Homo sapiens: one gene and its partners. The protein of the gene in region 1 purifies or fractionates together with the protein of each later gene. This does not show direct contact. Each region holds a gene or a part of one and is shown in the gene's direction. Other genes may lie near its edges. The genes, in order: ARRB1, RTF1, IGF1R and DOCK4.

Region 1 (7,111 bases):
GTGCGTCTGGTCATCCGGAAGGTTCAGTATGCCCCAGAGAGGCCTGGCCCCCAGCCCACAGCCGAGACCACCAGGCAGTTCCTCATGTCGGACAAGCCCTTGCACCTAGAAGCCTCTCTGGATAAGGAGGTAGGAGGCTCGGACTTGGCAGGGGGTGGGGGCTGCTCCACCAGGGCCTGGGCCTCAGATCCCAGCTCTCTCCTGGCCTGCAAGGATGCCTCAGGTAGGAGCTTCTATCCCCAGCCCAAGGACCACAGGGGTCAGGGAATCTGAGACCTCTCATGGGGGATTTGGAGAAGCCTCTTGGGCCTAAAGGAGTGGCAAAGGGGGCATGAACTTGAGAGATGTGATGGACTTCCGAAGTGAGGAGCAGACCTTCCTGAAGGTCCTGGACATCTCCCCCACACCTCCACCAGCTGCCTGCCTCAGGCCGAGTGCTGAAGGTCAACCAGCATTGCAGAGGGGGCACGGTGGGGGGCCGTGACCTTCCTGCCAAACACTGAGCGTCAGGGCGACAAGCCCTGCAGAAGGAAGGGCCTCCCCTCAAACTCTGAATCAAACCCAGCTGACTGCTGTGAGCTTAGGCTGGCCCCTCCTCAAGGTGTGGGCACCCCCTCTCTCTCGGGGCATGGCTGAAGGGAAGTGCCTTGGGGCAAGATGCAAGTTGAGGTCTTTTTGTAGGGATTCAGAGCTGGCTCCCTCAGTGAGCTGGTGAGCCCATCCTCACCTTTCCCTGCTTCTTCCAGATCCTTCTGTGGACAGAATTTAGAGCTGGCAGGGACTTCAGACATCACCTAGTCCAACCCCTTCGTTGCACAGAGGGAGACCCTGAGGCTTAGATAACCTACCCACGGTCACACTGCTTTCATCATCGTCAATGTTATTGTTGTTATTGTTGTCACAATTACTGCTGGCCAAGCCAGGGCTGGAGCCCAGGACTATCACCTTCCAATTCCGTTATCTTTCAAGGGTCCCACCAGGGAACTGAAGGCTAATGTGCTTGGTGGCTTTCATGCCACCTTAGCAGCAGTGGGAAGTGGCTGATGAACTTGGGGCAAATGTCACAATGCCTTGGGGGATTCGGAGAAGCCTCTTGGGCCTAAAGGAGTGGCAGAGGGGGCATGAACCTGAGGGATGTGATGGACTTCAGATGGGAGCAGCAGACCCTTCTGAAGGTCTGCGCAAGGTCTGGGGAACCCCAGAAGATCGCGTGGGGGCTTTTCTCCCTCCCCTTTCCCTAGAACCTTGCTGTCCTCCCAGCCAACCCCGTCCCTTCTTATGCCCCCCAGATCTATTACCATGGAGAACCCATCAGCGTCAACGTCCACGTCACCAACAACACCAACAAGACGGTGAAGAAGATCAAGATCTCAGGTATCCCAGACAGAGGGTCAGCTTAGGGGACAGCGAGAGGCAATCTTCCCAAGGGCTGGGGGTGGCTGAAGTATCTCCCCTTGTTAACAGCCTTGTATAAAAAATAGCCACTGAAGCCCAGGGCCTGCTCTGAGCCACAGGGCAAAGCTTTTGAGTTGGGTAAGGCAGGCTGCTTATTGGCTAGGTAATGAGTTTGCTCTTTAAGCCACCTCTTCAGTTTCTTGGGTTCTGGACAAAGCTGTCCTTGAGGGGAAGGCTTTGGTTATGGAAGGAAATGGGTGTGTTTGGGGCTACCCTTTGGATGTAAGACAGGGGTGGTCTTATGCAGAAGTCCCCACTGGTGGCCTCTGGCCATTGCCTGGGGCTGAATATCCCCAACCCGGGGACGCCTGTGAGACTCCATGGGAGCTACATTCCCGACTCACTCCACCTTGATTCCTCTCCCTCCCTAGTGCGCCAGTATGCAGACATCTGCCTTTTCAACACAGCTCAGTACAAGTGCCCTGTTGCCATGGAAGAGGCTGAGTAAGTGGGCACAAGTCTGGCCTTGGGCGTATGGGATTGGGTGGGAAAAAGAGAAGCTCTAGGTGTCCTGTTACAGGTCCAGGTGGCTCTTCTCCACCTGGCAGAGGGCTGGGCCTCAGACTTCCTTGCCACTCAGAGTAGATGATCCCGAAGAGCCTTTTAGAAACCATCCACCTGATTTAGCTTCAAGAAAATGCATGCTACAGTCAAGGAAGAGACCCACTAAAACTAGAGTGACAAAACAATAGCTAATGAATGTAAGGGGATTGGGGTTGTGAGAAGAAATAATTACGTTGTACAAGAAACCTAGGTTGAAGGGAAATACTTTGTTCTTGGCTTCCTGGTAGCCAGGGCAAAGTGGGTAAGGCACTAGGTACACAGCTCTTGTCTGATAAAGGGGTAATCCAACTCATTGGGAAAAAGGGGTTGTGTGTGGGAGTGCAGAGAATAATTACACACAAAAAAATCATCTAGGTTTGAGGAGAACTGCTATGGTTGAGCATGGATCGAACTTTGTCCCAGGCTTGTTGGCAGCTAAGGCAAGTGGAGAGATCTGAAGTGAAACATCTTTACTTACCTAAAGGAAGTAAATGCTCCCATTCAAAGACATACACATTTTTTTTTCCTGGCCCTGCAAGTAATTTCTTGGGGCAATTATACCTGATATAATTTTACATGTATATGTGTATTTGTTTATGTATAATTCCAATCAGTATTTCTTGCAACTGAAAATATTTTTAAAATGTTACTACATGGCCTTTGAAATAGTTTTTAATGTCCTATAGGTGAACATGCTATGATTAGATCAAGCTTTCTCTGGTTACTGGATATTTTTCATATCCACTGTTGATTTTTTCAAAAAAATCAGAGCTATGAGGCATAGATTCCTGATGGTAAAGTGAAGTGATCTAGAACCAGAGTAACATATAATCCCTAAAGAGTAGAAAATCCCAACCACTGCAGATGGTGCCAGCGTCTGCATAACGAATACCAGCAGGGATGGCTGGGGAGGCATTTGCACTCACAGACTTGTTTACTTCTCAGGAAGCGCTGTGGGGCTGGGGTTGCTGCTGCCCCAGTATGTAGAGGAGGAAGTGGCTCAGAGAGATGTGACTTGCAAGTTAGCAAGCAGCAAAGCTGGGGCTGGAACACGGTCGTCCGACTCCAAGGCTTGTTCACTATCTGCTGCATGACAGCTCTCTCATTGGAAAGGATGGGGGATAGAGCAAAAGCAAGTAAAAATTGGACAATCAAAACACCCTATATATGATGGATGTGATCAAGCAAGTAAAGTTTTAATTGTTGAGCCTAGATGGTGGGTATATGGGTGCCCAAATAGCTTCATTTATGGTTTATGTGTAGCTATAATTTTTTCTTTTTAAAATGTGTTTAGAGACAGGGCTGGTGCTCACGCCTATAATCCCAGCACTTGGGGAGGCTGAGGCAGGCAGATCACTTGAGGTCAGGAGTTTGAGACCATCCTGGCCAACATGGCAAAACCTCATCTCTACTAAAAATACAAAAATTAGTCGGGCATGGTGGCGCGCCCCTGTGATCCCAGCTACTTGGGAGGCTGAGGTAGGAGAACTGCTTCAACCTGGGAGGTGGAGGTTCCAGTGAGCCAGGATCGCACTACTGTACTCTAGCCTGGGCGACAGAGCAAGACTCTGTCTCAAAAAAATAAAATAAAATAAAATAAAATAAAATAAAATAAATTTAAATTAAATTTGTTTAGAGACAGAGTTTCACTCTGTTGCCCAGGCTGGAGTGCAGTGGTATGATCATGGCTCACTACAGCCAGCCTCGAACTCCTGGGCTCAAGTGATCCTCCTGCCTCAGCCTCCCAAGTAGCTAGGACTACAGGTGTGCACCACCATATCAGGCTAATGTTTAAAATTTTTTGTAGCGATGGGGTCTTGCTATGTTGCCCAGGCTGGTCTCAAACTCCTAGCCTCAAGCAATCCTCCTGTCAGCCTCTCAAGTTGCTGGGATTACAGGCATGAGCAACTGTGCCTGCTGTGGCTGTACTTTTTTTTTTTTTTTTTTTGAGATGGAGTCTTGCTCTGTCACCCAGGCTGGAGTGCAGTGGAGCAATCTCGGCTCACTGTAAGCTCCACCTCCCAGGTTCATGCCATTCTCCTGGCTCAGCCTCCTGAGTAGCTGGAACTACAGGCGTCCACCACCATGCCCGGCTAATTTTTTTGTATTTTTAGTAGAGACGGGGTTTCACCTTGTTAGCCAGGATGGTCTCCAACTCCTGACCTCGTGATCTACCCGCCTCGGCCTCCCAAAATGCTGGGATTACAGGCGTGAGCCACTGCACCCGGCTGGCTGTAATTCTTTAAATAAATGTGCTTTTTAGCACTGTGCTGCTTGACTAGGATAATCTTTTAGAATATCCGAGATTCAGTCCTGTTTGTGCGTAGAATGTAGATGTGCCTCTTTTGAGTGGCAGTGGTCTCCTTGCCCGAGCTGGGCTGGCCCAAGTGGTCCGTGTGTCTGGGGGACAGAGGTTGGGAGAGGGAGACTTGGAGCAGGCTCAGACTAGATATTCTGCTGGGCTGGAGATCAGGGCTGGGGTTGGCTCTGGGGAGGGCCATCTCCACAGCTGCTTCCTTTCTTCCCAGTGACACTGTGGCACCCAGCTCGACGTTCTGCAAGGTCTACACACTGACCCCCTTCCTAGCCAATAACCGAGAGAAGCGGGGCCTCGCCTTGGACGGGAAGCTCAAGCACGAAGACACGAACTTGGCCTCTAGCACCCTGTGAGGACCTGCCCTCCTAGCCCTGGGCTCCTAGTGCATCTTGCCTGATGGGGCCACACCCTCCTTGGTCCCCCCAGTTCAAAGACAAGGCTCAGGCTACCCTCTCCATAGCCTTGTCAGGGCCTGTCCTCAGGTGCTTGACTTGTCAGGGAAGCTGCCTCCTTACTCCCAACCCTACCCAGGGGTGACTGAGAGAATAAGATGGACCACTAGGCCAGCTCACTCAGGCAGTGCTGGGCTCTGCTACCATGCCTGGGGGAGGGCAACCTGGGAAGGCTTCCTGCAAGAGGTGGCAGCTTCTGACGTAATGCCTTCAGTCAGATGGGGTGTCCCTGAGGAGAGACCAGGGTGGTGAGCTGGGTTAGACCCAACATGGGGTGCCCCTCCAAGTCAGGGGTCCCAGGGCATCTGGTCACTCCTGCTGCACAGTCATCGTGGACGCCTCTAGGCTACTCTGCTCCAGCAGAGCCCTGGCTATGGGGATGCCATCTTGCCCTCTTGCCAGTGTGGTCCTTCAGTGGGGCTTTGGCCTACGTCTAGAGCAGCCGCCACTCCCAGCACAGACTCAGCTCTCTTCAGCAGCCCCTGCACAGCCTCCCACTTACCTGAAGCTTTTTGCCCTGTCTCCACCCTGGCTCACACCCTACCCATCTTCAAGACCCAGCTGAAGCACCACCTCTGCGGAGAAGTCCTTCTCTGATGGCCCCCACCCCACCCCACCCCAGCTGCCTCGCCCTCTGTGAACTCCCCGTGTGGCCCTTTCTGCCCATGGGTTGCTGAGAGAAGCAGAATCCATCTGAGGGGAGGAGGAGCCTGGCCCTCATGGCGGGGACGCTGGCCTGGGCAGGGAGAGGGGCTCAGCAGGGCCACACAGTGAGCGAGTCTCACAGTCAGACTTGGAACCGGGGCTCTGGGTCCCTGCTACCTAAGGGCACTGCTCGCCTTCCTCATCTCCACTGGGCTCTATTGGACATGGTAGCTGAGTGGCTAGCCAGATGGGGGATGGACGGCCACTGCCCCCCAGCATACCCACCCCTGAGGTGTCTCGCCCACCTGGCAAGGCCCCTGAACTGGCTCCCCTGTGTCACTTTGCAGGTTGAGGGAAGGTGCCAACCGTGAGATCCTGGGGATCATTGTTTCCTACAAAGTGAAAGTGAAGCTGGTGGTGTCTCGGGGCGGGTGAGTGCTCCAGCCAAGCCCAAGACCCCGGAGTGCAGAGGGGAGCGTCCCAGGTGCCCACAGGCCCCTGCCCCATTCTGCCTGTTTGCAGCCCTTTTAGCTGCATCCACCTTGGAGGAGGAACCTCCTGTCCCTTCTTTTCCTCCCTTCTGTTCCTCTTTCTCCCCCGCCCGCTTTCCCTCTCTTCCTTCCTTGGCCCTCAGCCCCTCTCTTACCCCCACCCATCTCTTTCTCTCTCTCCTCCTCCTCTATCCTAGGTCTGGGCTCGCACTGAGGATTGGCCATGCCCAGGGGACGGCGTCCTCAGAGTCTTTGCTGTGGGGTCCCCAGGGGTGCCATCTCCTTATCACACTTTGGGCATAGCACCCACCCCCATGCATGCCCAAGCTGATTTTCTGAGGAAACAGCTAAAAGGGCTCAGAACCCAGAGCTGGATTGGGGATTTGCTAGTCAGCTTTCCCATTTTACAGATGGTGAAACAGAGGCCCAGACAGTGCCCCAAACATTGCCTGAAATCTCCTCTCCTAACTCAGGTCATAGTGGTGGACCAGACTGCCCTGCCCTGGAGCATAGTTTGGTGGAAGCTCAGGGAGAAAAACAAACAAACAAACTACTGTGTTTCTTTTTTGTAACTTAATTCATAAATTTCTATGAAAAGATTGAAAAGCTAAATCCCATTAGACATTGGGTCTCCTTGATTATTAGAAGAATGCCTCTTGGCAGGTGGCAGTATGTAATCCTGACCTTATATAATAGGACATCTCAAAATTACAAATCCCAAATCCTGTGTCTGGTGACCTTTCAGGACCCACAGTCCCTCAAACATTCTTGGCAACCCCGGAGTCCTTCCCTCTGCCTTTAGATAGTCCGGCCTCCCTTGGGACAGGCAGCACTGGGGTTAATTTTTACACTGCCTTGACAGATGAGGATCCTGGGGCTCAGGGGTTTGCTGAGCTGGGTCTGGATCCCAGTCCCTCGGGGCAGGGCTAATGCCATTTCGGTGTATCCCTGAAAGAGCAGTCAGGGCTGTGCAGGGGGGTGGGTGGGAGTGTGTCCCGTGGGTCTTCTCTATCCGGGGGACAGCAGAAGTGGTGAATGAATGTGCTTTTTGTTTTCTTCCTCTCTGAACTCTCTCCTGACCACTTCTCCTGCCTCCTCTGACCCACCCAGCCTGTTGGGAGATCTTGCATCCAGGTAAATTCCTCCCTTCCACCTGGTTCACCCACCTTCCTGGAGGGCCTGGAGCCCATTGGCTTGACTGACCAGAA
Region 2 (7,103 bases), on another chromosome or scaffold:
AGGAGGATCACTTGAGGATAGGAATTGGAGACCAGCTTGGGCAACATAGTGAGATCTTGTCCCTACAAAAAATAAAAATAAAAAAATTAGCAGGGTGTGTTGGCACATGCCTCTAGTCCCAGCTACTTGGCAGGCTGAGGTGGGAGGATTGCTTGAGCCCAGGAGTCTAAGGCTGCAGTGAGCCATGATCATACCACTGCACTCCAGCCTGGGTGACAGTGCAAGACTCTGTTTCAAAAAAAAAAAAAAAATTCCAAGATTAGATAATGGACAGTATTTTTTTTTTTTTTTTTTTGAGATGAGGTCTCGCTCTGTTGCCCAGGCTGGAGTGCAGTGATGTGATCTCAGCTCACTGCAACCTCCGCCTTCCAGGTGCAAGCAATTCTCCTGCCTCAGCCTCCCGAGTAGCTGGGACTACAGGTGGGTGCCACCACGCCCAGCGAATTTTTGTATTTTTAGTAGAGACGGGGTTTCACCATATCAGCCAGGCTGGTCTCGAACTCCTGACCTCAAGTGATCCACCCTCCTTGGTCTCCCAAAGTGCTAGGATTACAGGCATGAGCCACCCCGCCTGGCCTAACTTATTATTATCATTATTTTTTTAAATTTTGAGATGGAATTTCACTCTTGTTGCCCAGGCTGGAGTGCAATGGCGCGATCTCAGCTCACTCCAACTCCGCCTCCTGGGTTCAAGTGATTCTCCTGCCTCAGCCTCCCAGGTAGCTGGGATTACATGCGCCTGCCACAATGCACAGCTAATTTTTTTTTTTTTGTATTTTTAGTAGAGATGGGATTTCACCATGTCGGCCAGGCTGGTCTTGAACTCCTGACCTCAGGTAATCCGCCTGCCTCGGCCTCCCAAAGTGCTGGGATTACAGGCGTGAGCCACCACACTCGGCTTGGCCTAACTTACTATTTTTTTTGAGACGTGGTTTCTCTAAGTTGCCAAGGATGGATTCCACCTCCTGGGCTCAACCGATCCTCCTACCTTAGCCTCCCAAGTAACTGGGACCATAGACCTGTGCCTCCATGCCTGCTTTGTAAACTTAAACCTTATAAGAACCCAAAGAGACAGACACTATCATTATCCTCATTTTACTAATTGGAAACTTTGACTGGTTGGGTTCTCTGGGAAGCTGACTCAAGAGGGAGTTTAAAGCAACGTTTATTCACTAAATTTAGACATTGATTAGACTCAATACGGACTAACTTCAGTACGTGAATCATTAGAAGACCCCTTGCAGAAAGATCAAAATCTACAGATTTCACTCAAAGAACATACTTTTATTAATTCCAGTCAAGGGCCACTGACCATGTCATGGCTTCCTTTTTAGCAGTACTGTGTATTAACACATTTAAAGAGGGTCCTCCAGAAGGGCACCACAGGCTTCAGGGTGGCTAGACATACGGAAGCTGGGCTGGTGATTCGGGGTCACCTTGGCCATGGTTCCAAGGATATGTCGGGGGAGAAAAGTCTATGAGCTGTATCTTAGGAAAACTCTTCTAGGGTAAAGAGGTAGTTGGACTTTATTTAGGTTGTTTTATTTATTTATTTTTTTGAGACAGGGTCTCACTTTGTCACCCAGGCTGAAGTGCAGTGGTGCGATTATTTTCTTTTTTCCTTTTTTTTTTTTTGAGAACAGGCTCGCTATTGTTGCCCAGGCTGGAGTGCAGTGGCGCGATCTCAGCTCACTGCAACCTCCACCTCCCAGGTTCAAGCAATTCTCTGCCTCAGCCTCCCAAGTAGCTGGGAATACATGCGCCCACCACCACGTCTGACTAATTTTTGTATTTTTAGTAGAAACGGGGTTTCACTGTCTTGGCCAAGTTGGTCTTGAGCTCCTGACCTCGTGATCCACCTGCCTCAGCCTCCCAAAGTGCTGGGGTTACAGGAAAGAGCCACTGCACCCGGTCCAGATTATTATTATTATTATTATTATTATTTTTGAGAAAGAGTCACGTCTGTTGCCAGGCTGGAGTGCAGTGGTACGATTTCGTCTCACTGCAGCCTCCGCCTTCAGGTTCAAGTGATTCTCCTGCCTCAGCCTCCCAAGTAGCTGGGATTACAGGAACACGCCACTATGCCCGGCTAATTTTTGTATTTTTAGTAGAGACAGGGTTTTACCATGTTGGTCAGGCTGGTCTCGATTTCCTGACCTTGTGATCCCCCTGCCTCAGCCTCCCAAAGTTGGGATTACAGGCGTGAGCCACTGTGCCCGGCCTAATTTTTGTATTTTTAGTAGAGATGGGGTTTTGCCATGTTGGCCAGGCAGGTCTTGAACTCCTGCCCTCAGGTGATCGGCCCTCTTCAGCTTCCCAAAGTGCTGGGATTACATGTGTGAGCCACCACGCCCGGCCCCTACTTTATATTCCTAATCACTAAAGGAAATAACTTCTGGAGCTGACCTTTTTATCAGCTGACCTCAAACTTAAGTATAAAAACTTATTTCCTATACACACCAGTTCCCAAAACCTTCTTCTCTCCTCTTGTATTTCATTTTTTTGATGAAGGGCTCACCTGCCACTAGCTTCCTAAGCTAGAATCTGAACATCAATAGGTATCTGGGAGCACTCCTTCCCTTACCCCTATCCCAAATCCTGGGGATTCTACGTTCCAAATTATCCAGAGTCCATCCACTTCTTTCCATTCCCACAGCTTCGTCCTTAGGTCAGGACACCATCATCTCTTGCCAAGAAGACAACAACAATCCAAGCGATCTCCCTGCCCTTAGTCCATTCGCCATACTGCGGTCAGAGTAATCTTTGAAAAACACAAATCAGGCCTGGGTGCAGTGGCTCATGCCTATAATCCCAGCACTTTGGGAGGCTGAGGCGGGCGGATCACCGGAGGCCAGGAGTTTGAGACCAGCCTGGCCAACATGCTGAAACCCCATCTCTACTGAAAATACAAAAATTAGCAGGGCGTGGTGAAGGGCGTCTGTAATGCCATCTATTCCGGAGGTTGAGGCTGGAGAATCGCTTGAACCCAGGCGGCAGAAGTTGCAGTGAGCCAAGATCGCGCCATTGCACTCCAGCCTGGGCGACAAGAACGAAACTCCGTCTCAAAAAAAAAAAAAAAAAAAAAATTAGCCGGGCGTGGTGGCAGGAGCCTGTAATCCCAGCTACTCAGGAGGCTGAGGCAGGAGAATCGCTTGAACCTGGGAAGCGGAGTTGCAGTGAGCTGCCACTGCACTCCAGGCCGGGCAACAAGAGCGACTCCGTCTCCAAAACAAACGAACAAACAAACAAACAAACAAAAAAACACCACCACAAATCAGGCTGGGCACGGTAGCTCACGCCTGTAATCCCAGCACTTTGGGAGGCCAAGGCAGGAGGATCCCTTGGGCCCAGGGGTTCGAGACCAGCCTGGGCAATATAGGGAGGCCCCGTCTCTACTAAAACACAAAACCACACACAAATCAAATCATGTGGTTCTTCAGTTTAAAATCTTTCAATACTCAAGTTCAAACTCCCTAATTCAGCTTACTTATTAGGATCTGAGTGAGGCAGTCGCCGTGTCCTTCTCCAGCCTGGTCTGTCGCCTATCCCCACCCACAATCTCTGCTCTGGCCATAACTAACTTCAGTTCTCCGAACCTAACTTTATTATCGCCGGGCCATTTTGCCTACGCTGTTCTCTGCATGCAACACTCTACTCTCCTTTTGGGTAATTCAGATGCATTCTCCAGGTCCCAGCTCAGCTGTCATTCGCACAGCCCGGGTCGGCAGTCTCCAGCCCCCAACCGGTGTCCACCGCGTGGTCCAGGCGACTTATGTCTTCCAGGCCGTCGGCCCCTTAAGTACACGCCATCAGTGTTGGACAGCTTGAAAGTAGGTAGACACGTGAGCCCCCTCAGAGAGAACCTGGATCCTTGCGGCTCCAGCCCCCGATAGGAAGAGAGCCCACCAAACTTCGGCTCCGCAGCAGAGATACAGCCAAGGACTCCAGGGCAGTCGCGGGTAAAGCCACCACCACTCTCTGCCGGGAACCAGCGACGGGGGAAGGCCCCGCCTCTCACGCTGCGTCGGGGGCGGGGCAGGGCGGGGCACCCGGCGACCTGCGAACGGCGTGCGGCGAGCAGGGGGCGGGGCCAGGGGGGCGGAGCGGAGCGCGCATGCGCGGTCGCCTTTGTGTGGGTCGAGCAGCGGCGGCGGCGGCGGCAGTGGCGGTCCCACTGGCAGGCGGGCAAGAGGGGAGTCCGGGCGGCGGCCGGCGTGGGAGCCGGGGGACCACCATGGTAAAGAAGCGGAAAGGCCGCGTCGTGATCGACTCGGACACAGAGGACAGCGGCAGCGACGAGAACCTGGATCAGGTGAGGGCAGGCCGCGGAGGCGCGGGCCGGCGGAGCCAGAGGGCTGTCGGGGCCGCGGGAGCCGGAGACGGCCGGGCCTGGAGCCTTCCTACCAGAGCGCCCAGCTCGCCCCGTGCCCTGGGCACCACTACAGCCCCTTTCCCGTCTTCCTGGAGTGTGCGGGGCCTTGGAGACCGGCCCGGGCCTGGAGACGGAGCCCCGAGGACTTGGCGCCTTGGGCGGGGAGGCGGGGCAGGGACCGGGCCGTTGGGCCTCGGGCTCGGGGGTAGCGAAAGGGGCCGCGATCTTCCGGGGCCAGATCGGGGCGGCGGGCTGTAGTCCAGGAGATCCGGGCTGGGAGAGATAGGAAGTATCGCCCGCCAACCTGGGAGGCTGGGAGGTTTTGGAGGAGGTGCAAGGGTGCGCGTCGAGCAGTTGGGGGCGAGGGCCAAGAAGATCCGGACTCTGGAAGATGGAAGTTTTTCGGACAAGGGATGTGGACAGAGGAAGGACACTCGTAAATGTTCCTAGGAGCCTCTGCCATGCTTGCCAAGGATGACTTAGCTGTGGGCACGAGTTTATTTGGCGACTAGGGTCGTTTGTGTTTGAGAAGGGCCCTTGTTGAGGTGTCAGACCCAAAAAAACACTCTTGGGTGGAGGAAAGAGGGCAGATACTGGAAGAAATAGAGAACTATGTAGGGCGACATGGAGGGACTGTGCATAGCCCAGGCCTCCTCTTGGCCCTTTCACGCAGCATCCCAGAATTCTTTCTTACTTGAAGACTGCAGGAAGCACTGAAAGTAACTTTTGGCCTCAGTGTCTTGGGGTTGAACTGTTTATATACTCTAGAAAACATTGTAGGGAGGAATCTGCTCTTTGTAGCAGTGCTCTAGTGATACCAGGCGATACAAAGATGGTCTCCTTTCTGTTTAATGAGCAAATGATGTAAAGAAAGAATATGCAAGAGATAGTAGCTTTTGAGTAGAAAGAGTATTGAACTTGGAGTCTGAAAATTTGAATTCTAGGCTGGGCTTATGCTATTTTCTAGCTATATATCTTTGGTCTTAAATGTAAAATGAAAATGTAACATCAGCCTTGTGTATCTAATTGGTTTATTGTAAAGATCAAGTGTTTGTAAAAATTGATGGCAGTGCAAGCATTTGCTAATTGTAAAGTTTTTCTATGAATGGCTTCTTGGGGGTCTTTTATATGAAGCCAGAGGTCTCAGTTTGAAAGTATTAGGGGCTGGGCGCGGTGGCTCACGCCTGTAGTCCCAGCACTTTGGGAGGCCAAGGCTCATCTGAGGTCGGGAGTTCGAGACCAGCCTGACCAACATGGAGAAACCCCATCTCTACTAAAAATACAAAATTAGCGGGGCGTGGTGGCACATGCCTGTAATCCCAGCTACTCGGGAGGCTGAGGCAGGAGAATTCTTGAACCCGGGAGGCGGAGGTTGCAGTGAGCCTGGGCAACAAGAGCGAAACTCCATCACAAAAAAAAAAAAAAAAAGAAAAGAAAGAAAAAGAAAGTATTAAGGCATAAAAGGGGAGGACTTTTTATTTATTTATTTATTTTTTTTTGAGACGGAGTCTCGCACTGTCGCCCAGGCTGGAGTGCAGTGGTGCGATCTTGGCTTCACTGCAAGCTCCGCCAAGGGGAGGACTTTTAAGAAGAAAAGGATTGAGGAGGTGCTGTAGAAAGAAGACTGCTTTGAAAATGGTGGTAGGGAGATGGAGAAGTAATGGGGCCTGTGTAAGACTATCTAAGGAATAGAAACTTTGTTTTGGGGTAGGAATTGAAAATGTTCTCATTGAAAGGCTCCTGAAGTTTACAAAAATATCAAAAGTATAATTTCGACTGTAAAAGTTTGATTGGTAGATAATTTTAGACTGGCAATTAGAAGGAGTAGAATCTATTTTTTTCTGTCTTTTCATCTACAAATGTGAATGTTTCAGACAATAACAACATTGGCTACCATTTATATAGTGCCTAGAGTAGGCACTTTAATTGTTTTGTTTAGATTTTCAAGTTTTCACATTATGGTAAATTTGGAATTATTTCCTCTACTTTACATAAAGAAAATGGAGGTTGAAAAAGTTAAATAACTCACAACTAGTAAGTGGTAGCATTGGGATTTGAACCCAGATCTGCATGAGTACAAAGCCTATACTGTTTCCACTATACCAACTCAATCTGTTAGTTTTAAATTTTTTTCATACTGCAAAATGATAATGTTTCACAGTCATTTTTCATGGTGCTAGAGTTCGTGTTTATAAAGTACACTGGATAGTTTAGAGGAAATTGGTACATACATTAAAAGGATTATTTGGGGGGATTTCTTGGTAAAGCACTCTCAAGACATCTGTTCAAGTGATGAATGAACTGAACTGCAAATTATTGTCCTTAGTAGTTTCCCACAGAATTCTGATGAATAAAATAAGTTGAGTGCTTCTTTTCGTGGTAGAGATATTTCACCTGATCCACAAAAAGCTTTTTCAAAGTGGGAACTGCAGAGAATTGCCACTTTATTTATTTATTTATTTTTGAGACGGAGTCTTGTTCTGTTGCCTGGGCTGGAGTTCAGTGGCACAATCTCAACTCACTGCAACCTCCGCCCACTGGGTTCAAGCGATTCTCCTGCTTCAGCCTCCCGTGTAGCTGGGACTACAGGTGCCTGTCACCACACCTGGCTAATTTTTTGTATTTTTAGTGGAGACAGGGTTTCTCCATGTTGGCCAGGCTGGTTTCGAACTCCTGACCTCAAGTGATATGCCCACCTCGGCCTCCCAAAGTGCTGGGATTACAGGCATGA
Region 3 (7,660 bases), on another chromosome or scaffold:
CTTTTAAAGCATCATGGAGAAATGTAGCATTTATGCCTTGGGAGCCAGCTATCTATGCAGAGCTAAAATAGAAAATCTTCTCAAGTTGAGTATAAACAGATCCTCAACAAGACTGAGACTCTTGTTGCTTGTGGCTGTGTGGGGATAGGAATCAGCTACAGCATCACTTGTATTTTTCCTGCCCTTGGGGTGCTCTGTGGAGACCATGTGATGCCTTCCACAGCTAATGCCCCTAAGGAAAGACCTTAGGCAGATACACACTGAAAGTATACACATCTGTAGACAGCTGTGGGCAAGGATGTTGGAGTTTAGCATCTCTACTAACTCACCTAATAGTAAAAACGGGAAGCATTGTGCTAACATTTTTTTTAGAACAGCTGCAACTATCTAAATTATAATACAATCTTAACAATTTAACATTCAGATACAATTATGCAGAATGAAGTGCACCCATCTTAAGTGTACAGTCTGATGTGTTTCTGCTAAATGCATATACTAGCATAGCCAACACCCCATCAAGATATAGAGCATTGCCATCACCCAAGAAAGTTCTTTATGCCTCTCCCTAGTCATTTGAAACTTTCCCTCTCTACCCACCCAGGGCAGCCATGATTCTGATTTCTAGCTCTAGATCAATCTTGCCTGTTTTTGAGCTTTACATAAATGAGCTAATACAGTATGTACTCTTTTGGCTTATACATTATGCTTTGGAGACTCATTTATGTTTTTGCATGGATTAGTAGTCCATTCCTTTTTACTGCTAAGCAGTATTGCATTGAATGGATATATCATGATTTGTTTATCCATTCTCCTTTTGATTTACATTTGGGTTGTTTTAGTTTTTGCTATTATGAACAAAGCACCTATTGACATTCCCATAGAAGTATTTTTGTGGAATTTTCATTTCTTTTGGGTAAATAACTAGGGCTAGACTTGCTGGATCGTAAGTTAGTTGTATGTTTTACCTTATAAGAAACTGTCAAACAGTTGACATAATGCACTCTTAATGAAGCTTATTACCTGTGAAGTGAGGTCTTTTAAATTTTTTGTCTTTTGATTTTTGTCTTAAATTGCATCGATATTAGATGTGTGGACATTCTTCTGAAATATCTTAAGGATCAGACCTTGATTAACTGTGTTATTTTAGTAGATCTTTAATGCTTCTGAGTTATTTATACGGACAGCTCGAAATCTGAACGACTCCCATTGGAAAACCAGAATGATCTCTTTCATGGATCTCTCCCATATTTTTATTTATCTTCTTTAATGTTTTATACATACAAAAATATGTAGAACATGTGTTAGTTATTAAGCATACTTATAAAATGGAAATTTGTAAATCCGTCACTCAATCCAAGAGTGAACTCATTTCCAAATTACAATGGAAACCCATGTGCCTATGGGCTTCTCATCCTCTCCAAAGGAATTCACATCCTTCATTAATTCTTTTGCTAAAACAAAAGCAAAACAAAGGAAAAATATTATTTTATTATTTAAAGCAAAAAAAATTTTCTGTAACTTTTAAAGTTTTCCTTGCTTTTTAAGAGCTTTATCAAAATGGTGTTACGCTGTGTGCGTTTTTGATATTTGTATATTTTTACTCAGTGTGTTTCAAAGATCTGCCCATGTTGTGTGGGGCTGTAGTTTATTCACTTTTGCTGCTAACATTCCTTTCTGCGAATACATCACAATATACTGTATTACTTGATACTTGTCAATTGTTGTGCTGTTTCTCACGTTTGCACTTGATGTATATGATATACATTACATTTTTTGGGGAGTCTGGTACATTTAGCAGAATAATTTGAGATGAAACTGTTATCAAGTAAACGGCGTTTTTAAAAAATGAAAACAAGCAATCAGTTTCTGCTCCAAAAGAGGGAGAACCTATAAGATACCTGAGTAAAATGGTATAAAATAAAAAGTTTGGTGCATTGTCAATGTGGGTATAAAGCAAAGACTCCAATTAATTTTTGTCTACATGATTTTATTTCAAGGTTGAAAAAATAAGTTTGACTTGTGTATGTAAAATATAATCATTGAAGAAATACAAATCACCTCCTTTGTCCATGTGGTCAAGTTAGAGCGTAAAGACAACCTAAATTTTTGTTCCTTTTTTTTCCCTAAATATTAAGCTATATAATGATACATCTCCCACTTCACTGTTTAAAATAACTTAATACGATTGATTTCCTACTACTTCAGGAAAACACAAACATTTAAAAAATTCACAAATAAAAATCATTTTAGTAAAAAAAAAACACACAAAAACAAATCCTACAACCCCTACAACAACCTATATACATTTAAAAATTCTATAGACCTCTTTATGTTCTTGGGGACAAATAAACAGGCATATTTATTACTAATACTAAAAATACATTGGGTAGTATTTGAAGATTTTATATTAGCACTAGCCTTTTAAAAATCAGCTCTAAATTTTTGTCTTACAAGTATGTATTAAAAATTCTGAAATCAAGTATAATGAAATTATATATCAATATTCCTTTGCATTTAACTCCAGAGTGGATCTGCAGGAATCAAGACCAACCTCATGCAGAGAACTTAAGAAATATTTAAAAATTAGTAGACTGGACTTTAATTCTTCATGTGTAGTGCCTAATTTTTAAATAATACATTTTAAGATTCTAATAAATTTATTTCACTGTTAAATCTAGGAACATCCAAAACTGAAACTCTTTATTTAAAAATCAAGCTGAATTTCAGTTAAACAAAACCATCCCATCATATGAATAACTTTCTTAGGTAAAACAAGGTTTATTTTCTTTCTATACAACTGACTCTGAATTGAGCTAGAAATTTCCAAGGAGGAAAATGATCTAGGAAACAACTTTAGAAAAAAAGGGCTAAGTTTCCGTTATGATAGCTTTTGACTTGTTTTCAGCTCTTAAAAAATTATTTACGAACGATGGATACACGTTCTAATGCAGAAGTATTTTAGAATTAGAGAGTAAAAGAAACCTACTACCTTCCTTTACATCAGGTCCCTTCTACCATCCTACCCGATTGTTTGAGACAACCACTTCTTATCTCGACAATTCACAACTCTTTTATTAGCTATCTTAAAAAAATTTATTACTGGCATCAATTAGCCTGAGTCATGAAACCGGACCACATTAAGGGCGACACATGGTCCAATCACTGTTTGTAAAAGTCCACGTATTTCAAACTCCTCTCTCCTGCCACTGCTGGGCTGTTTCCCTCTTTGAGGACCTGGTCTCCGCAGCATTTATTCATTAGATGGCAGTCCTAGGGGAGTCTCGCTTTGGGGAAACCTCTCCTCCTGCACATTCAAGAAAACAACCGCGGAGACTTAGGGTCGGTACTGGTTTCCAGTCACTTACGTAGCAAACGAAGCAAGAGGAACGTGCCTGGGAGGACCCGAGACAGGTGCGGGTGGGTTTCCGCAGTAGCCGCTGATCCCGAGTGCATGCGGCGTGTTCCCGGGTCGGGACCGCGGCCAAGGGAGGCTTCCCGGCCCCAGCCTCCACCCCCTCCTCGGCGCCCCGGGACCCGGACACGCCCCCCGAGCTTCGGAGACCCGCAGCGTGCACGCGCCCCGGCCGCTCCCCGCAGCCGCCCACGTGGTGGAGCCCTGAGCTGCGCGAGGCCGCGGAGAGCGCTCAGGGCGGGCGGCTGGTCCGGGAGGCCACGCCAGCGCGACCCAGCCGAGTCGGCCCCCAGCCCGGGCCCCCACATTTCCTCCCCCGGAGGGAGGGAGGCGACTCTCCGCGGGCTGCCCTCCCCAGCGCCCGCCGCGCCCTCTGGCGGCCGCCGCGGGGACGCGCCCGGGGCACGCGGCGCTGCCTGTCTGGGCCCCCCTTCCGGGGCGCGGGGCCCGCGAGGGGCGGCGGGGTCCTCTCTCCTCGAGCCACTCTGGGCCGAGCCACACGGGCCGCGCCCTTCCCCCTCCGCTCCCCCTGAGCCCCCAAACTCCGGGCTCCACGGTCGCAACGCCGCGGGCACCCCAGCCTGGCGTGAAAGTGCCCGGCGTAGTAGCCTGGGGGGGGGGTCCCCTTTCTCCCAGGTGCGCCCCTTCCGCCACGTTCGGGCTTTCCAGTACGCAGCGAAAAAAATGCCGCATGCACGCATTTATTTATTTTGCAACAGCTGCAAGAAACAATGAAGCTTTTCAAGAACCGGGGAAACGCGCTTTCCAGCCGCGCTGTTGTTGTTTTCAATGAACCTCTCCCAGCCCCGCACTCCCCGCCCACCCCTCCCCTCTCCTGCCCACCCCTCCCCTGCCTAGCCTTTCCCTGGCTACCCACCCCTGCCCCGCCGAGACCGGACCGGCGGCGGGGGCATTGTTTTTGGAGTCGGGCGGGAGGGGAGGGCGCGTGCGGGGTGGCCGGCGCAGTGCGGTGGGGGCGGGAGCGGGTGGGCACGCGCGCGTGTCTCTGTGTGCGCGCGGGAGGCGGTGGGGCGGGAGATGGGGGCGGCGCCTCGCAGTCTCGCGCCCCACGCCCGGGCTCCGCTCCGCACGTCTTGGGGAACCGGGCTCCGGTTTTTTGCGCGCGCCGGCCTGGGCCGGGCCCTCGGCGCGCCGCTGCTGCGGCGGTGGCCGCTCGAGTGTGCGAGCGGGCGCGTGTGCGCGGGCCAGGGCGCGCGCGCGCGCGCGAGCCCCCAGTGTGTGGCAGCGGCGGCGGCGGCGCGGCGAGGCTGGGGCTCTTGTTTACCAGCATTAACTCCGCTGAGCGGAAAAAAAAAGGGAAAAAACCCGAGGAGGAGCGAGCGCACCAGGCGAACTCGAGAGAGGCGGGAGAGCGAGAGGGACGCCGCCAGCGAGCCTGCCCACGGCCGGCGCTCGCAGACCCTCGGCCCCGCTCCCCGGATCCCCCCGCGCCCTCCACGCCCCTCCCGCGCGGGGGCAGCTCCACGGCGCGCCTCGCCTCGGCTGTGACCTTCAGCGAGCCGGAGCCCCCGCGCAGAGCAGGCGGCGGCGGGCGGGGGCCGGGCGGGGGCCGGCGCGGGGCGGGCGGCGGCGCAGAGCCGGGCGGCGCGGCGGGAGTGCTGAGCGCGGCGCGGCCGGCCCGCCGCTTTGTGTGTGTCCTGGATTTGGGAAGGAGCTCGCCGCGGCGGCGGCGGCGCTGAGGGAGGAGGCGGCGGCGAGCGGAGCCAGGAGGAGGAGGAGGAGGGGGAGCCGCTCATTCATTTTGACTCCGCGTTTCTGCCCCTCGCCGGCCTCGCCTGTGACCCGGACTTCGGGGCGATCTTGCGAACTGCGTCGCGCCCTCCCGCGGCGGAAGCTCGGGCGTCCGGCCGCCTCCCGCGCGGCCAGGGCCGGGCTTGTTTTTCCTCGCCTAGGCAGATTTGGGCTTTGCCCCCTTTCTTTGCAGTTTTCCCCCCTTCCTGCCTCTCCGGGTTTGAAAATGGAGGCCGACGACGCCGACAGCCCGCCCCGGCGCGCCTCGGGTTCCCGACTCCGCCGAGCCCTGGGCCGCTGCTGCCGGCGCTGAGGGGCCGCCCCGCGCCGCCCGCCCCGTCCGCGCACCCGGAGGGCCCCGGCGGCGCCGCCTTCGGAGTATTGTTTCCTTCGCCCTTGTTTTTGGAGGGGGAGCGAAGACTGAGTTTGAGACTTGTTTCCTTTCATTTCCTTTTTTTCTTTTCTTTTCTTTTTTTTTTTTTTTTTTTTTTTTGAGAAAGGGGAATTTCATCCCAAATAAAAGGAATGAAGTCTGGCTCCGGAGGAGGGTCCCCGACCTCGCTGTGGGGGCTCCTGTTTCTCTCCGCCGCGCTCTCGCTCTGGCCGACGAGTGGAGAAAGTGAGTATGTGCCCGCCGCCCGCGGCCACTGCGGGAACTTTTCCTCCGAGGGGCTGCGCCCTGTTTGCGAAACCCGAGTTGCCACCGTCGCAGCTGTCGGGCCCCCGGGCTCGGGAGCGGCGGGGTGGGGCGCAGGGCGGCTCTGCCGGGAGGGAGGCTGCAGCGGACCCGGGACCCGGGCTCGTTCGTCTGGAGCCCCGCGGGCCCTGGCTCCGCGCATCCCCGCGCGGGAAGGGCTTTTCTCTTTCTCCGTCCTGACAGCCCAGCCGTGTTTCCCGGCTAGGCGCGAGGACTCGGTAGGGAAGTTGGTGCCGGGGCGGGCTCCGCGGTTCCCGGGCCCCGCGACCCGCACCTCGCCCCTTCCATGCGCAAGAGCCTCTCCGCACACAGCGCTGATCCCCTGCGGCGCGCAGGCAGCAGCGACAGCACCCTGGGCCGCACCGCGTCTCCGCTGCTGGGGCTGACCGGGCAGTGGGGAGCGGGCAGCCGCCCGGCCCGCGGGGTGCGAGTTGCCCTCGAGGGGGGAGGTGCCCTGCGGAGAGGCCCCGAAGCCCCAGGACACGTCTCCAAGCGCCCGTCGCTGCCTCCCGTCGCCCAACGTGCTTTTGCCCCTCGGGCTCCTCGGGTTCCTGGCCTTGCCCGTCACTTTGGCCCGCTCCTCGTTGGGTTACCTGCCCCCGGCGTCCCGGGGCTGGGCGGTGGGGTGAGGGGAAGCGCTCTCTGGGCAGCCCCCCGGGAAGTGCGAGGCCGGGAGTCTTCCTCAGCTTGTCTCTTCCGGGGAGCGCCACTGGGTCCCCAGTTCAGAGGGCTCTGGGATGGTCTCCCAGTTTCTCCCGGGCCGGGGGATGGAGGGGTACTAGGGCCGCATCCGAGTGTGCGTTGGTGGGTGTGTGGTCGGAGCCGACGTGCATTCCGACACACGTGCTCGCAGCGCGGGGTGTAGTCGCCGCCTCACGGGGACACCTAGACGCCCGTCCCTGGCGAGAGGTGTCGTACGCTGTGGTTTCAGCGCCAGGGTCTGCGGCGGCGCGGGGAGGGTGTTGTGTTTTGCGAGCGCGGAGCCCTGGCCTTGGTTTTGTTGTGGTCGGCGTCGTGTCGCCCTCTCTTCTGCCGCCCCGCACTTCCTTTGTACGTAGTTAATAAGCAGTGTCGCTCCACATTCGCTGTCTTTTGCAATCTGATAGCTTTTGTTTTGGTGGTGTCGGGTGGGGGTTAGTAGGGAAGCGCGGGGATGCGGGGAGCGAGAACTCCCCCCGGTGTCTACGGCCGGAGGAGGTGGGGGTTTTATTCTTCTGAAAAAGTTGAAAGTGTGGCTTACTGGTACATTCAAGATGGTAGGGTAATTTGAACACGATTAAAAGTTTAAATGTCGCAGAACTGGGACTGGGAACGGTGAGGGCGTGTTGGTGAGTAATGGTTGCCGAGGGTATGCAGGTGGTGCCGATTAACTTTGAAAAAATCACGACTGAGCCTTCACGAGTGAGGCGGGGAAGGAGGAGGCAGCGGAGGTTGTATGGCCCCATCACCGGGGCAATTCAGAAAGGCTGTTTCTATAAACAAATCCTTAAACGTCTGGTAAGAAATGAGTCCGCGACGGAACGAGAGCAGATCGTGGTTCGCGTGTTTACTGCCGAGTGGGACGCGGACTGGGGCCGGACCTTCCACAGATCTGGGCTCTCCTGCTCTTTGTTTTCTAAACTTTCAGCGGACTCGATTGGGCGAAAGCCTTCCGGCTCCCTTTACTAAGTCGTTTAGGTGGTGGCTGGGGGGACAAAGGAGGGTTTTTATCTTTAAAAGATAAGTACGGTTTAGAAGACACGGGAGAAATAATCCATTTTGTTATGTTATGCAGTTGAACTGTATAGCTTCTCTAGTTT
Region 4 (7,111 bases), on another chromosome or scaffold:
CTACTGGGCTTTTCCACATGCTCCATCATGAGCAGTGTAGAGATTCATCAGCCTTCTTGCAGGGAGGATGGGCAGGCTCATCCTGACTCATTTTCTGGACCCCTGTAATCTGTTTTCCAGCCCTACTTAAATGGGCCCTAGTCCTCATTCTCCACTGCTGCCACTTGGTAGCCAGCATAGCCACCTCCTTCCTCCCCACACTCCTCACATTGAGCAGGGTCCTGATGGCCCCTGCAACTGCCTCACTTTAAAGGAAGGGAAAGAGAACACAAAGGAGGAGTGAGAGCTGGGATGGGGGTGGAGTGGGAAGTGAGGAGTGAATGGCAGGGGAAATGCACGAGGGATTATGAAAGAGAAGATGCCAGGGAGGGGAGGCCTCCTGAAGTGAGATGCAGGAAGTAGGAAGTAGGTAGGAGGGAAGCAGCAAACTGGGGAGAACAATAGAGCTTTGCCTTTGTCGCCCTGAGTCTCACTCTGTGGAAATATCTGATATGCCAAATATAACCAATCAGTTTTAAAAGGTTTCAGTCATACCCCAGGATGTCTGAATTACATCTGAATAGTCAACATTTTCAGGGTTTTTGGTTATGAAAACATCATAAATCTCTTTTTCAAAGTCAGTATTTTTAAAATCACTTTATTTTTCTCATTCTAATTCCTCCTCCTCCTCTTACCCGTGTTTGTTGCAGATAAACATTCCTGTTTGGTACTGAATTCCTTACTATTAATAGTAAATCCTTTGTGAGGTTTTTCTCTTGAATCTGGCTTTGGTGGAGCTTGCTTCTCTTTCTCCTTGAGATTCTTAATGCTTTTTCTCACTGGTGTTCTCTATATTCTCTTTTTCTTTCTCATCTTACCTACTTCCTTGGTTTGGGGGGTTTGGAGTTTTTGTTCCCTCATCATCTTTCTGTTTCTCAGAAAGTCCCTTTTGGGTTTCTGCTAAAACAAGTGATTTGAAGTAAATTTCCTGCTTCCCTGCCTGGAAATTCTGTCCTGGCTCCTCTCTCGGCCAGTCTAGTCTGGCAACTCCACTGAGCCCTGAGGCCAGTTCTACCAGGTCCCGCTGCCCTGCGCGTGCTCGGCACACGCGAGCCTTCAGTTCTCACTGCATTCATTGGCCTCCAGATGCCACCTCTCCCTGCATGCGTTGGAGACTAATAATGCATGGAGACCATCTCCCACAGCCTTTGTAACTTCTGCCCAAGAAAGATAAATTTATTCCCTCCCCAGGTGAAGAGGTTCTCTAAGGACCTGCTGGACCAAAGCCCTCATGTCTGTTTAGGAAAGGGTTAAAGAGCTGGGCCCTGTGCTTATCTGGACTCTGGGATGAAAGATGGCCTGTGGAGTCCAGGAGCTGCTCTTCTCAGGTTGAGAGCTCCCTGGATGATCTAAGAAATCACTGGGCCTGTTACCATTCTTTTAGTCTGCAAGATTTGGGTCACATTGCCAAGAAGACCTTTGTTCCTGGGTGGAGTTGGTTGCTAGGCAGAGTGCTATGTGCTGGGCACCCAAACGGGAATAAAGCAGGTTCCCAGCCCTCAAGAAACTCTCATCTTTCCAGGAGGAGGCAGAAAAATTAATCAACAAATATTTGTCACCTGCCTGATTTGTAAGGATTTGTAAGTGCTACTGTGATGTGGAAGCATGTAGAAGGGACAGTTAGCTCGAGATTTCAGGAAAGGCTTCCAAAATGAAGCAACATCCGATCTGAGGACTAAAGGATGGGTAGGAGTTTGTAAGTCAAGAGCAGTGGAGAGGAAACAGAATACAGTGAAATAAATGCCATCCTAGAGAGGGCTAGTCATAGTTTGTGGGAGCCTGCAACTTGAGTGGCTAGGAGAGGGGAGCCACATGTGTTAAGAATTTTACTTTTACTAGCAGAACGCTTTCATGTGAGGACCTGTTCTCTATTAAGGCAATTAATCTTCCTTTTCTATTTTGAAAGGTGATATGCTTGATCTTTTGAAATGGAGAACCCACCCAGACAAGATCACTGGCTGTCTCTCTAAATTAAAAGAAATTGATGGCTCAGAGATAGTAAAGGTATATAGTATTTCATTACTATTTTCCTTGCAGAGATTCATAGAATAAAGAACATTTGGAGGAAAAAGACAGATAGTATCTTATTTACTCATTTGCTACTTCTTTATCTAACAGTTTCTGCAGGATACACTGGATACCTTATTTGGAATTTTAGATGAAAATTCCCAAAAATATGGGTCTAAAGTGTTTGATTCTTTGGTAAGTTCAAATTCCCTTAATTGTATTTTAACTGTTTTGTCTCTCAATCTTGACTTTCATGAGGCTGGTTCAGAAACATGTGCTTAATAATGTAAGAGTTCATTTTAAAAAGAAGCAAAAAAAAAAGGAAAACCTTGATTTGCATTTAGTTTTATAAAGCTCAATTTTCTTTTTTTAGGTTCACATAATAAATTTGCTGCAAGATAGCAAATTTCATCATTTTAAACCTGTAATGGACACTTACATTGAGAGTCATTTTGCTGGGGCACTTGCATACAGGTAAGGCCCTGTATCTTGTAATTAGTTTAGAAGTGGTTCCTTTCAAGCTTTTCTCAGCAGAAGAGGCGATATAGGAAAATTTAAAAGGGAGTGTAGGAAGAAATGGAGCACTACTGAAGTGTCTCTTGAGATAGTCTCTTCCCTGCTAACACACCCTTTTTAAATGGGTAGAACTTATTTTGATTAAAAAGGGAAAAAAACCTCCTGAATTCTATTCCTGAGCCCTAAAATATAAAGTCTTTCCTTCTTGTCTCTGTTTCACTGGATATTCTTTGGTCTAAAATGTCTGGTTATCTCACTTCGGCTGTTAAGAGTCCCACTTCATCACTGTACTCCCTGATGATTATAAATGTTCATAAGAAAGAAATATGAATGGAAAACAACCTTTTCCTTCACACCTGCTGAAAGTCATCCATTCATTTATGTTAGGATTTACTGAGTGCCAGCTGCTTGCCAGGCACTGTACTTTATGCTGATGATGTGAAGACCTGGTCCCTGGCCTCAGGCAATTTAGTCATTGGGATCTACTCTTTGATAGGAGCTGCTATTTTAACTGCTCCTCCTTTTCTACTGGCTCAGGTGGTGCTGAAAAGTTATGAATAATATTATGCTTTGGCTAGTGCCTGCCTCCTCTCAACATAGTTGATAATTGCCAGAGGCCACAGCTTCTCTCTTTTAGTTCGACAAATAACTGCTTAAATAGCCTTGGAGTGTACCCCATCGTCTGTCTCCCAGTCCAATATGGTCCTTGCTGTTCTCCCATATTTCTACCTTATACCTTAAGCACCTGTGGGCATGCACATGCCTGACTGTTCCCTGAGGTGAGTTTAAAAAGCATGAAATCAGGTTGATATCCTTCCCCCATCTATGTAATATATAAAGGTTAATAGGTTATCAGATAAGCATTTGATCCTGTTTACTTGGATATTCCCAGCCATGACAGGTTAAGATCGACGTCTCCAACATCGAAATGAATGAAGGTATTTTTGTTAGACTTGACACTTCATCAGTGTGATTTTTTGCTGAGAGTGAAATGCAACCGCAGGAATAGTTTTGAAACATCGGCCCACTCAGCCTAACAATTTGGGCCCTAGTGTGAGGAGGTTACTGCTTCCAAGTTAAATTGTCTTTGGAAGCTAGAAAACAAGAGTATAATTTCTCACACTTCCGGTTGGCCAGGAAAGCAGGATCTTAAAAAGACAAATAAGGCTTGTGGAATCCTCTTAGGCTGGGGGTGATCAGAAACTCACTAGCATGTTATCTTAAAAAATAGCACTCCACCAACATCTACCTACTGGCACATCCAAGTATTCTCCCCTGACCCAGAGAAACATTGCTGGGTAAACTGTTTCCTAGAAACCAAGAACTGGCTGGGCACAGTGGCTCATGCCTGTAATCCCAGCACTTTGGGAGGCCAAGGTGGACAGATCATTTGAGGTCAGGAGTTCAAGACCAGCCTGACCAACATGGTGAAACCGGGCCTCTACTAAAAATACAAAAATTAGCTGGGCGTGGTGGTGCATACTTGAATCCCAGCTGCTTGGGAGGCTGAGGCAGAAGAATCTGCTTGAACCCAGGAGGGCGGCAGAGGTTGCGGTGAGCCAAGCCACTGCACACCAGCCTGGGTGACAAAGCAAGACTCTGTCTCAAAAAAAAAAAAAAAAAAGAAAAGAAAAAGAAAAAAGAGAAACCAAGAACTGACCAAAGTTCAAGGTGTAAGACTGTCATCTTGAGAGTTGTGGGCTGTTGTTTTTACATTTTTTCAAAACAGGAAAAAAAATTACCTTGGCCTTTCTAGAAATTCTCCTAAGGCACATATTGACATAAGCCAGGTTCTTCTCATGGGTCAGAAAATTGGCTTGATAAATCCATAAGGTGTGCATAGCAGTGGGGAGGCATTGTCTCCATCCCTCCTTCCCACCCCGTTTTGCCTGCAGCCTAATGATATTGCATCCAGCTGTTTACGTGGTCACTGGGAAAGAAATCCCAATGAGCAGTTTTACAGTATTGACCATGGCACTCACACTGCCAGGCACTTGGTTGGGCACAGTCCTTTTCTCCAATATTTGTGTTCACCCATTTGGAGGCATTACCAGAAACAGCAGGGCTATGGAATATGTCCAGATTGAGTGTTGTTTCTCCCTTAAGCTTTGAAAAGGGTGGCAGTGTTGATCTGCAGATTTAGTAAAATTATTATACAGCAGATTGACAGGAAAATGTGAGAACTGATGGGAAAAGAAACCTCCTCATGATATAGTTAAGAGTTGGATTTGTTGGCATTTAATTGAGAATTAGACCAATTTTACATTCTGCACATTTTCCCCTGTATTTTAGAGATCTCATCAAAGTGCTCAAATGGTACGTGGACCGGATCACAGAAGCAGAGCGGCAAGAGCATATCCAGGAGGTGCTGAAGGTGATAACATGCTGTTGATAACAGCAGAGTCTAACAAAGCTGTTGCATGCTGATGCTTAAACTAATTGGTTCCTCTACACAGACAGTAATGGGTGATGATGTATTACTGACATTCCAATTCAAGGATCTTAATCAGTTTGTGACTGCTTGAGAGCTGATGAAATTTGAAGGGGACTTTGCCAGGGTAGTCTACTGGAAACTGTTCAGGATTGAATCCTTGTTCCTCTGGGCTGGAGAGTACTTGAAGTGAAGTCTAAGATGAGCAGGAGAGAGGGAGGGTTTATGAGAGAAGTCTATATGGGGCAGTTAAGCTTAGAAGTTCCTGGCTCTTGCTTCCACCAACCTGACAGAGACCATCGGAGAACCATTTATGTTAAATTTTAAGAGCAAATAGGGTGGCTTAGCGGGGATTATAATGAGGAAACCTGAGGCTTTACCGGGTCTTGTGGCTTAACGCTGCCCACATCGCTGGGCACCATATGCTCAGTTGTCTGTGGAGATACTAATCCCTTACTTGCAAACATGTTGAAAAAGAGTACAAATTCTTAAAGGAATTGTCCAGTAACAGCCCTGGTAGTCTTCTGATTCCTGTTGTTGAGGACCATCCTATTTGGTGTCAGTAGCTTTAAGTAGACAATGTATACATTTTATAAAATAGCATTTTGTGAATTATTCATTTGTAATTTGGGCTGATTGAAGGTAAAATGCTAAGTGGCAAGAGTACTACCTGTCAAAACAAAATTATTTTTTAAAAAACAGTTATCTTTTTGTTGACTAAATTTAAAAAACATCTGAGGGTCAAAAACACTTAGTGTTCATCATACTCCAGAATGATAAAATTTTTTTTTTTTTAATTTTTTTTTTAGACGGAATTTTGCTCTTGTTGGCCAGGCTGGAGGGCAATGGTGCATTCTCTGCTCACTGCAACCTCCGCCTGCCAGGTTCAAGCAATTCTCCTGCCTCAGCCTCCCAAGTAGCTGGGATTACAGGCATGGGCCACCATGCCTGGCCAGTTTTGTATTTTTGGTAGAGATGTGGTTTCTCCATGTTGGTCAGGCTGGTCTCGAGCTCCTGACTTCAGGTGATCCACCCGCCTCGGCCTCCCAAAGTGCTGGGATTACAGGCGTGAGCCACCGTGCCCGGCTAAAGTGTTTTTAAATTTTCTATTAAAATTCTATTTCTTTTAAATTTCTTTTAAATTTAAAGTGTTTTTAAATTTTTTTTCTCTCATTAGGCATCAGAGAAAAGTGGCTGTTCCCCCTTAAAGTAAATACTGTTCAAAAAAGCCTCACAAGGCCTTGGTGTCTACATGAATAATGTAAAAGTTTAATGCCATACCATGGTTTTTATGCCGTGTCATTGCTAAATAAATACTCTTTGTCTCCTTTGAAGCTAACTTTTAAAAATTGTATTTTTAAGGCACAAGAATACATTTTTAAGTATATAGTTCAATCTCGAAGGCTGTTTTCCCTTGCCACTGGTGGGCAAAACGAAGAGGAGTTCCGCTGCTGCATTCAGGAGCTTCTCATGTCAGTCCGTTTCTTTCTTTCGCAAGAGAGCAAAGGGTCTGGAGCATTATCTCAGTCACAGGTAATTTCTTTTCATCTATGCTGAATAGAAGAAAACGATAAGTGCAGTTTATTTATTTTTACACAGCAGCGTAATCAAATGTTTTCTCCATCAGAAGTCAATTGCTCCAGTTTATATTTGTAGCTTAACCAACTTTATGAGTAGACTTTTAAAATTCCCCTACCTTCTGTGTACCAGCTGAGCAGAAGTGGGTTGCCTTTCCCTTCTCTCTCTGCATGGAGAGGCTATTGGTTTGCATCAGCTTCATTTCCGGTTACCAGAACACATACTGACGACTGGACATGCTGTCACCACCAGCCCTGGGGAAGGAATTTCACTAGGGCCAATCTCTTGCAGTTCTTTTCCCCAAGCTTCTCACTGCATTTTAATCTGTCAACTTGAGAATCATTATATTGGACTCAGCTAAGCTGCATGTTGTTTTGTTTTATTGAACTTGACCCTAATCATCCTGGGACTGATCTTTTAAGACCAGTGCAGAGCTGCTGCTGCCGCCAAACTCCATTACCGGAAGTAGCCCCACATGTTTTTTTTAAGAACAGGATCCATCTACTTCCCAAATAGCATGGCCTTGAATATGTTCCATGA

The links.
Region 2: the proteins of ARRB1 (region 1) and RTF1 purify together in Homo sapiens (affinity purification with mass spectrometry; 3 studies listed by BioGRID and IntAct, with this or other methods). This does not show direct contact.
Region 3: the proteins of ARRB1 (region 1) and IGF1R purify together in Homo sapiens (affinity purification with western blotting; 3 studies listed by BioGRID and IntAct, with this or other methods). This does not show direct contact.
Region 4: the proteins of ARRB1 (region 1) and DOCK4 purify together in Homo sapiens (affinity purification with mass spectrometry; 2 studies listed by BioGRID and IntAct, with this or other methods). This does not show direct contact.

The regions. Positions count from the first base shown.
Region 1 is NC_000011.10:75,271,627-75,278,737, reverse strand, and holds part of ARRB1 (beta-arrestin-1), read left to right. Parts: coding exon 1-129; intron 130-1,289; coding exon 1,290-1,374; intron 1,375-1,826; coding exon 1,827-1,899; intron 1,900-4,526; coding exon 4,527-4,664; intron 4,665-5,759; coding exon 5,760-5,843; intron 5,844-7,013; coding exon 7,014-7,037; intron 7,038-7,111. UniProt on the Homo sapiens protein: Functions in regulating agonist-mediated G-protein coupled receptor (GPCR) signaling by mediating both receptor desensitization and resensitization processes.
Region 2 is NC_000015.10:41,413,002-41,420,104, forward strand, and holds the start of RTF1 (RNA polymerase-associated protein RTF1 homolog), read left to right. Parts: upstream 1-4,093; 5' UTR 4,094-4,114; coding exon 4,115-4,312; intron 4,313-7,103. UniProt on the Homo sapiens protein: Component of the PAF1 complex (PAF1C) which has multiple functions during transcription by RNA polymerase II and is implicated in regulation of development and maintenance of embryonic stem cell pluripotency.
Region 3 is NC_000015.10:98,643,893-98,651,552, forward strand, and holds the start of IGF1R (insulin-like growth factor 1 receptor isoform 1 precursor), read left to right. Parts: upstream 1-4,646; 5' UTR 4,647-5,689; coding exon 5,690-5,783; exon of another isoform or gene 5,784-6,895; intron 6,896-6,948; exon of another isoform or gene 6,949-7,058; intron 7,059-7,660. UniProt on the Homo sapiens protein: Receptor tyrosine kinase which mediates actions of insulin-like growth factor 1 (IGF1). Binds IGF1 with high affinity and IGF2 and insulin (INS) with a lower affinity. The activated IGF1R is involved in cell growth and survival control.
Region 4 is NC_000007.14:111,867,399-111,874,509, reverse strand, and holds part of DOCK4 (dedicator of cytokinesis protein 4), read left to right. Parts: intron 1-1,945; coding exon 1,946-2,043; intron 2,044-2,157; coding exon 2,158-2,241; intron 2,242-2,419; coding exon 2,420-2,520; intron 2,521-4,854; coding exon 4,855-4,936; intron 4,937-6,355; coding exon 6,356-6,526; intron 6,527-7,111. UniProt on the Homo sapiens protein: Functions as a guanine nucleotide exchange factor (GEF) that promotes the exchange of GDP to GTP, converting inactive GDP-bound small GTPases into their active GTP-bound form. Involved in regulation of adherens junction between cells.